Regions from separate parts of the Homo sapiens genome. Here region 1 is linked to region 2. Evidence: fine-mapped expression QTL. A gene starts in region 2. The other region holds a variant in brackets. All regions are shown on one strand. Distances are from middle to middle. Region 1 overlaps PADI6 (peptidyl arginine deiminase 6). Region 2 holds the start of PADI6 (peptidyl arginine deiminase 6).

Evidence for each region. PIP is the estimated chance that this variant, and not a neighbour inherited with it, causes the effect.
Region 1: its variant is the best candidate, but not a certain one, in a credible set for the expression of PADI6 in whole blood (INTERVAL, PIP 0.70).

What each region holds. Positions count from the first base shown.
Region 1 is chr1:17,392,296-17,396,678 of GRCh38, reverse strand. PADI6 (peptidyl arginine deiminase 6) reads right to left here. Exons shown (of 16, transcript NM_207421.4): 10 at 2,597-2,704; 11 at 2,225-2,379; 12 at 1,572-1,728; 13 at 1,016-1,139. Among named protein-coding and RNA genes, the nearest start is that of PADI6, 22 kb to the right of the region's middle. RefSeq lists an enhancer at 1,759-2,958. The variant G/A (reference allele first, on the strand shown) is at 1,787.
Region 2 is chr1:17,369,557-17,373,939 of GRCh38, reverse strand. It overlaps PADI6 (peptidyl arginine deiminase 6), which reads right to left and starts at 1,744. Exons shown (of 16, transcript NM_207421.4): 1 at 1,579-1,744; 2 at 707-884. The coding sequence starts at 1,694.

The DNA.
Region 1 (4,383 bases), 23 kb before region 2:
TGATCTTTGGGACAGGGATGCCCAATTTATTTGCCAGCTCTGAGGTGATAGTCTTTGTCATGTGGTTCATGCTCAGCAGATGTCACCTTCCATGGTGCTTCTATGACCAGGAGTTCCCGGGCCCCAACCCCAAAGGCTGAGTATCCAGGAGGTGTGGAGCAGGGTGGAAATTCTACATTTTTAACAAGCTCCCAGGTGCGCTGGCCCTCAGATAACACTTTGAGTATTGAGGGTCTAGAAAAACCTAATACCCCCAGCCCCTTTCTGGGTTCCTACAGCCTTTATTATTTTTTGAGATGGAGTCTTGCTCTGTGGCCCAGGCTGGAGTGCAATGGCACGATCTTAGCTCACCGCAACCTCCACCTCCCAGGTTAAAGCGATTCCCCTGCCTCAGCCTCCCGAGTAGCTGAGATTACAGGCATGCACCACCATGCCCGGCTAATTTTCGTATCTTTAGTAGAGATGGGCTTTCGTCATGTTGGCCAGGCTGGCCTCGAACTTTTGGCCTCAGGTGATCTGCCCGCCTCAGCCTCCCAAAGTGCTGGGGTTACAGGTGTGAGCCACCATGCCCAGCCCACTCCCACAGCCTTTAGATCAGAAGTGCAATGGCACCAGCCACACCACCTCTGCTTGTCCACCTGTGTGTTTCCTTAATGTAACCAGGAGACCCACAAAGTCCCAGTCCCTAGATACTTAATCCAACATGCCCTGAATAAATCCAGGCACTAGCATTGTTAACACCCGTTTTCCCCCCACTTGGGGCCACCTATGTACTAAGTGAGTCCCCCTTCAAATACATCCAAACAGCCTCCAGGCCATCCCAGAACATCTGGTCTACTTGTGTTGTAGTACCACTAGAGCAGCCCAGAAATAAGACGTTCTAATATGGCAATTCCAACAGCTTCTGTGCTTCCCTGGCATCCTTTACGCCAAGCGTGACAGAATGGCTATGTAGAAAGGACCCCTGGAAAAAGGAAGACCCCAGTTCTGTTCTGTGGAAAGGGAGTTCCCTTACCATTAGACAGGAGCTGATCTGCTCTAAGCTCATCAAACAGAAGAGCGTCGCCATAGCCTTCCTTCTGTTTCTCTCGGAACAGTTTATAGCAGGCACTGGGGCTGGCCAGGAGCAGCAGGAAGCCCTGGGAAACAGAACTTGGGTCAGAAGCCAGCTTTCTCAGCTGGACATGGTGGCTCATATCTGTAATCCCAGCACTTTGGAGGCCGAGGCAGGCAGATCCTCTGAGGTCAGAAGTTCGAGACCAGCCTGGCCAACATGGTGAAATTCCATCTCTACTAAAAATACAAAAATGAGCCAGGTGTGGTGGCATGTTTCTGTAATTCCAGCTACTCAGGAGGCTGAGGCAGGAGAATTGCTTGAGTCCGGGAGGCAGTGGTTGCAGTGAGCGGAGATCACGCCACTGCACTCCAGCCTGGGTGACAGAGCAAGACTCTCAAAAAACAAACAAAAAAAAAAAAAAACAAGAAAAAGCCAGTTTTCTCTCCAGAATCTTCCAAGATTCCCCAACAGAAGGCAAGGGTCAGATGTCCCTTCTCCAGACCCCAAAGCAGACCTTTTTGCCCTCATTCTTGTCATCTGTGGGGATGAAGCACATGAACTCATCCACGTGGCCAGTCATTAGCCAATCTGAGTAGAGCTCCACCGGCGCTTGGACCTGCTGGGCATAGAGGAAGTCTCGGAGGGTCTTACTCATGGCCCGGCCCTCTGCGCTAGAAGGAAGATGGAAAGAACAGCTCTTGAGCCAGTGTGGCCCAGGGCTGGTCACCC[G/A]CCACTTGGTGTCATGCTGCCTCCAGGGAGCTGGCCTCTGACCGTTGTGTGAAAGAGGCCGGTCCATAGCGGATGTGTTGGTTACGAATCCCTTACTCTGACCCCACTCAGAACAGAGCCTAGTGTTTCTAGACAGACAAGCCCGGGCACAAGTATCATTTTGGATTTATGGCCACCAAGAAATCCAACCACATATCTCTTGGAAATGACATCCTGGTGGACCAAATTTCACTTGTTTCAGTTTAAACCCTGGAATCAAAGAATAAATGGTTTATTCTCATCTTTAGTCTCCCACGTGAATCAAAAGCTCAAATGTCTTCAGTTTAAGAAATGGTCCAGTGTGTGTGACCTGCTGAGGTGCTATGGGAAGCAGGCGGGGCCAGGGGAACGACCATGGTCCCTTCCTTTCATTTGGAGGCGTCTGGCTTTGTGGCTCACCTGGGGTAAAAGCTGCTGCCAATGAGGACTCTGCCCAGCGGGTACTCTTTCCCTTGGACCTTGACAGGTGGGGACACCATCAGGTTCCCAATGGAATCCATGCTGGCCACTTTATGGTCCTCAGTGTCCTGGATCATGTAGCCAATACCAGGGCTCTGGGGGAGAGACCGAGCCAGGGAAGGGGTGTTAGTAGGGGATGGCTTTAGGCCCCAGTCTTATCCCTAAATCCAGGCTCTCAGGTAGACTTCCACGTCCCCTCCCCCCTCAGAGGCCACCTGGGCCCTCTCCCCACTTGGTGCCCCATTATTTCTAGGCAGGCCCCAGGCCTGAGAGATTGGACTGAGCTCAGATTAGCCAAACCAAGTTCCACACCAGTGAGTACTTCATGGGGAACTCATCGAGATCGGCGGCCTGAGGTGTGTCGAGGATCAAGGACGTTGTCTTGTGGGGAGCCTGGGTGTAGCAGAAGGCCATCTCATCCTGGAATGGAGAGGAAGACAGATTGTTTGCCAGTCACACATCTCCCCGGACCCCATTTACGGAAAAGGTACGGTAAGAACCCCCTTCCTTCCTGCCAACTCCTGCTCAACCCTCAACACCCAGCTCAGATATCACCCCTTCTTGAAGGCTCTCCGATCCCTCTCTCCCCTACTCTTCAGGTTTAAGACTTGAGCATCCATGGCCAGGTGTGGTGGCTCACGCCTGCAATCCCAGCACTTTGGGTGGCCAAGGTGGGTGGATCACTTGAGCCTAGGAATTCAAGACCAGCCTGGGAAACATGGTGAGACAGTCTACTTAAAACAAAACCAAAAAGTTAGCCAGGCATGGTGGCTCATGCCTGTAATCCCAGCTACTCAGGAGGAGGCAGAGGCTGCAGTGGAGCTGAGATCGCGCCACTGCACTCCAGTCTGGGCGAAAAAGACTTGAGCATCCAGATTCTTCCTTTCTTCTTTCGTAAAGAATCCATTAACAAGCCTTACTGGCTTACATTCTGAGTCAGCTCTGCGCTGGTGCCACTCAGGAAGCCACCGTGTCTCCACCCTATGCCACTGTGATGCCTTCCAGTTTCGCTTCTATTCTTGCCTACTCTTAAGATCTGTTCCCTACATCTTAGCCAGAGGGGTCTTTTGAAAACCTGAACTATAACCTTTCATTCCCGATTCATGCTTTGAGTGTCTCTTGTTTGTCCTTAGCTTAAAAGGTACCTTAACCAGGAGGTAGCCCTGCCTTTCACCTTTGTTCACTGTGATCTGTCTGCATCAGCCTTCTTCAAGACCTCCAAGCACAACCCCAGATTTTTTTTTTTCTTTTGAGACAGTCTCGCTCTGTCATCCAGGCTGGAGTGTAGTGGCGTGATCTAGGTGCACTGCAACCTCCGCCTCCTGGGTTCAAGCGATTCTTCTGCCTCAGTGACCAGAGTAGGTGGGACTACAGGCGCGCGCCACCATGCCCGGCTGATTTTTGTATTTTTTTAGTAGAGACAGTATTTTGCCATGTTTTCCAGGCTGTTTTAAAACTCCTGACCTCAAGTGATCAGCCTCCCAATGTGTTGGGATTACAGGCTTGAGCCACTGCACCCGGCCAGGAACTCCTTTTAATCCTGGCCACCCCTGCCCCAAATCTCTGCATGGCCAGCTCCTTGTTTCCTTAAGTTTCATTTGCAGATTTTCCCAACTATTCTTAAACTGCCTCATTTGGTCTAATGAATCACTGTATCATCTCATTGTCTAAATTTCATAGCACTTAAAAGTTCTATCCTTGCTAACATGGGACAGCATATGTTCCAGTTTATCTCTGGTGCTCAGGATGGCGTGCCTAGCATGTGATGATCACTCATCTGCAGAGGACAGAGCTCTAGAACCGAAGGCTGACCGGGGCTCTAGACTTGGTGCTGTGCCAGAGTCAGGCGGGACCCCAGGGCAGTGGCCCAGCTCTCACAGCCTTAGCCAAAGGTATCAGAGCCTTCCGGGGCCTGGGGGTTAGGGTTCTGTGGTCTTGAACACGTGTCCATTCTGGAATGGGAAGGAGGCTGGACTCTAACTATTCCTTAGTGGCCATGACTCAGGCAAATCCTCATCTGAGCCTCCACTGAAGTCCTAAGAACAGGGCCGCCCCTATCAAGGCTTCGGTCTTTAAGGTTAACCAGAAGCCTGTGAAGT
Region 2 (4,383 bases):
GGCACCCCATTAGGGAGACAGCTTACCCAGGGGAGAATACACCCTTGGGCTCAAGCTCAAATCCTGGGTCTATCCCACTCTAGGTAGGCTACTTAGGTTTAGACACAGCACTCTGTGCCTTAGTTTCCTCATATGTAAAGTGATGGTAGGCCAGGTGTGGTGGCTCATGCCTGTAATCCCAGCACTTTGGGAGGTGGAGGCAGGTAGATCACTTGAAGTCAGGAGTTTGAGACCAGCCTGGCCAACATAGTGAAACCCTGTCTCATACTAAAAATACAAAATTAGCCGGGCATGGTGGTGGGTGCCTGTAGTCCCAGCTACTCGGGAAGCTGAGGCAGGAGAATTGCTTGAACCCGGGAAGTGGAGGTTGCAGTGAGCTGAGATTGTGCCATTGCACCCCAGTCTGGGCAATGAGCGTGAGACTCAAAAAAAAAAATAATAATAAATAAATGAAAATAAAAAATAAATCCCAGTCCTGCTGGTTGCTGACTTGGCAGGGCACCTTCGCTAGGTGCCTCTGTTTCTTTGTAAAATGGGGTCATGGAGTGCCCACACCACTGGTCTGTTGCAGACACTGGATGAGATCAGACGTGCAAAACAACGTGTTTCCCAGGCTCGAGTCACGTCTGCAGCCAGGAGGAAGCCCCAGTGGCTGTGCTAGGTCCCACCCCGGGAGATGCCCCTCACCTCTTCCCCTGAGGCTTACCTTATCCGCATCCACGGAAGGGCTGGGCGATGTCATCTTCACTGTGGCGTACGTGGGATCAGACAGGGGCCACCAGATGGTGGCGTCCTCCTTCTCAGAAATCACCGTGTTGGCCACATCGATCAAGACCCTCCCAGAGCCATGGATGGTGAAGCACTGGCACTTCTGGGGGGCACACCTGGTTTGCCCGGTAAGAGACACGCGTCAGGGCACAAACACCTTCTCAGCCTAGGAGATGACTGGCATGGGGGAGGGGACGGCTCCCGAATCCTCATTCTCCTTAGGGTGTTGAGGCAGAGTGGTCTGGGGTCCTTATTCCTACCCACCCCCTCCCAAAGGACCCCTGTGTTTGCTCTCCGACGGGCTCCAGCCCAAACCCCATCCCGCTACCGACACTGCAGAAGTTACCACAGCTACATCTTAGTAATAAGCACCCAATTCCCAAGAAGGGGGGAGCCACAAAGGATCCCCATAAAGAAAAAGATCAGGGCAAGCGACTCAGGAAGTTGTACTGTGACCCTGCTGAGTCACCTCCACCTGCAGGCTCCAGCATCTAGCAGTCTCCCTGGCCTGCTCCTCACAGCCCCCCGAGGCCAGCGTCCCCATGGTTTCACAGATAGGGGAACAGAGAGGCCAAGGCCCTTGCCTCACTAAGAGTCCATGGCAGCTGCTACAGGGCAGAGGCAGGATTTAAGTCAGAATTCTGCGTGGTTGGAACTGGGAGGCCCCCCACTAGAGACCCAAGGCTTCCCAAGATGGGGCAGGATAGTGAGGCTAGAGAAGTAACCCCCAACTCCCAGATCAAGGGGACTGGGTCCCAGGCCTGCCTGCCTGTCTGCCTGCCACCTCTGGCAGAGCTCCCAGCATCTCACCCGCTGAGATCCAAGCAGATTTCTGTGCCCAACACACAAACGGCATGGACAGGGCTGTCCAGGGACAGGTGGATGATACTCTGGAAGGACATGGCTCGGCCCTCCACGCTGACCATCCTCAGGCCTGCACCGCAGCCCTCACTCAGCACAGCAGCCTCAGACGCCCCAGGGCTCACCCTGCCCTTCCCTGTTATACAGTCCAGGCCTGTGCAGGCCACCCCCTTGTTAAGAAGGGGAGGGGTCAGCAGCTGCCCAGGTGTCACTGATTTTCCCTCTAAGAGCTTCCTGGTGGCTGATAGTCTGGGGAGCAGGTGGCATCAGAACCCCTTCATCACCAATTTATCAGGCACCTCGTGCCTGCAGAGCTGCAGGCCAGGGGAGTCTGAGGCCGGTTGCTTAGGCATCTGTGGCCTTCAGCTGGGAAGAGGAGGGGCTCTGGGAAGTCGGTGCCTTGGAGTGATCAACTTGGCCATGTTGCTGGAGGACTCAGCTGGAAGCTGTCGGGGCAAATACCTGCAGAGGGCAGTTGGGAGGAGTTGATGGTAGCAGTCAGGATGGCAATGTGTGGCAGCATGCCCAGGCTCTGGGGTCTCAGTTCTAGGGTGTGTGTCTCCTGGAAATTGACGAAGGAGCTCGGCAAAGTGCTGGACTGGTGGTTTGGTTTTGTTTTTGAGACAGGGTCTCTACCCATGCTAGAGTGCAGTGGCGCAATCATAGCTCACTGCAGCCTCAACCTACCTGGCTCCAGTGATCCATCTCAGCCTCCCAAGTAGCTGGGACTACAGGTGTGCACCACCATGTCCAGCTGATTTTTGTATTTTTTGTAGAGACCGGGTTTTGCCATGTTGCCCAGGCTAGTCTCGAACTTCTTGATCCCAGAAATCCTCCTATCTCGACCTGCCAAAGTGCTGGGATTACAGGCGTGAGCCACAGCGCCTGCCTAGACTAGGTGGTTATTAACCCTCTGGTGGTTTCAAAAATTATCAAGGGTGCTTGTTAACATTGCAAATTCCTGGGCCCAGAAGGTCTAGGGTGTGGTCCAGGAACCTGCATCCCAACCCCCAGTGATTAAGGTGAGCTCTTTGCTTACAGCTGTGTCGGTGGGGGTGGGGGCACAGCAAGTGTTAGTGGAATGAATACATCAAGCCAGGGTCATCAGCTGCTACTCATCTCAGCGGAGCCCACAGAGCAAAGAAATAGGAACCCTTCTCTGGCACAAGGAACTTACATAACTGACTTTAAAATTGTGTTCATTTCATGTCTTAAGCTTGGGTTGAGTTTTTTTTTGTTGTTGTTTTTGAGACAGGGTCTCACTCCGTTACCCAGGCTGGAGTGAAGTGGCGTGATCATGGTTCACAGCCTTGACCTCCCAGGCTCAAGTGGTCTTCCCACCTCAGCCTCCTGAGCAGCTGGGACTACAGATGTGCACCACCATGCCCAGCTAATGGTTTTACATTTTTCCGCAGAGATGGGGTCTTGTTATGTTGCCCAGGCTGGGTCATGCTTACTCCTGAATAGGTACCACAGTCACATGATTCCAAGTTCAGAGTCTCCCTCCTGCCCTGTGCCTTACCCACCTGCAGGTGGAGGTAGTGACAGTGTTACCCGTTTCTTATATGTCTTTCCAAATAAATGTTATGCATGACCAAGTAAATATGTGTGTGTATCCTTTTCTTCTTCTCTTCCTCCTCCAATACTAGCATACAGTTAGATAAATTTGAAGGGGCTTTATGGTGAGAAAGGGAAGGACGTGGAGTCTATTTTAAGGTTAAGGGAAAAAGGCTTCTGCAGGTTCCTTCGAGGTTACATCTCGAGACTAAAGAGAAAAGTTGTAAAATGTGCTCAAAGTTAAGCTGCTTGGTTACAATTACAAACTTTTCAGTTCAGTGGAGATGCCCCTGGAAGCCCATTGGGTTATCTTTTTTGAGGAAGGACAAGGAGGTCATTTAGTCATTTGCTCCACTAGAATTGCTGAACACCTACTATGTCCGGGGCGCTTTTGCTCTTTTCTTCTCTCCTCCTACTACTGTCTTCTTATATAAACGGTAGTATGTGCCACCCAGTATTCCATACCTTGCCTCTTTCACTTCATAGTTATACTGGAGAGAAGTTCTTTGTATCAGTACGTAAAAAGCAGCCTTACCCCTTTGTACAGCTGTGTATTTTACATAGGGTTGTACTGTAATATAAACATTTGTTTTCAGCCTTTGCTCTAATATGCACCCAGGTGTACCCAGCATAGGAGGTGGAGATGAGGTACTGAGTGAAGCCTGTTCGGTCAGCCAGGCTGGCTAAATTTGCAAGTTGCAGTAAAAAATTCCCTCCCTGGAGGTTTTAAGCACTCAACACAACTCTCAAGGATGTCTCTGTTTTAGTTGCTCTTGGAGGCAGGGGGTTGGTCAGCAAGACCCAAAATGCCCCTCTGGTTGGATTGAAAGTGGCAAAATTAAGCAGGCAGGAAGCACTCAGCGTGCAGAGGCTCTGATGAGACTCATCCCAAAGGGCTCACCCACCCTCACGCACAAGCGGCCAGAGGCAGCTGGAGGGAGAAGACGGGTTGACTGGGGAGGGGTCGCTGAGGCCCAGTCCAGGCTCTGGGGTCTGGAGGAAGGCAGCCTGGAAGCTCTGACGTTCCCCACCCTGGGGCAGCCCTGCCTTGTGCCAGGGCTCTACAGAGCACAGTGAGGAAGGCTCCTCACCCAGCCTCGTGGACAGAGATGAAAGTGACTCAGACCCAGAGCACGTCCTGCTCGCCTCCAGGGGCTTCTTATTCACCACTGAATCCCCAGCACCTGCAAAACAGCT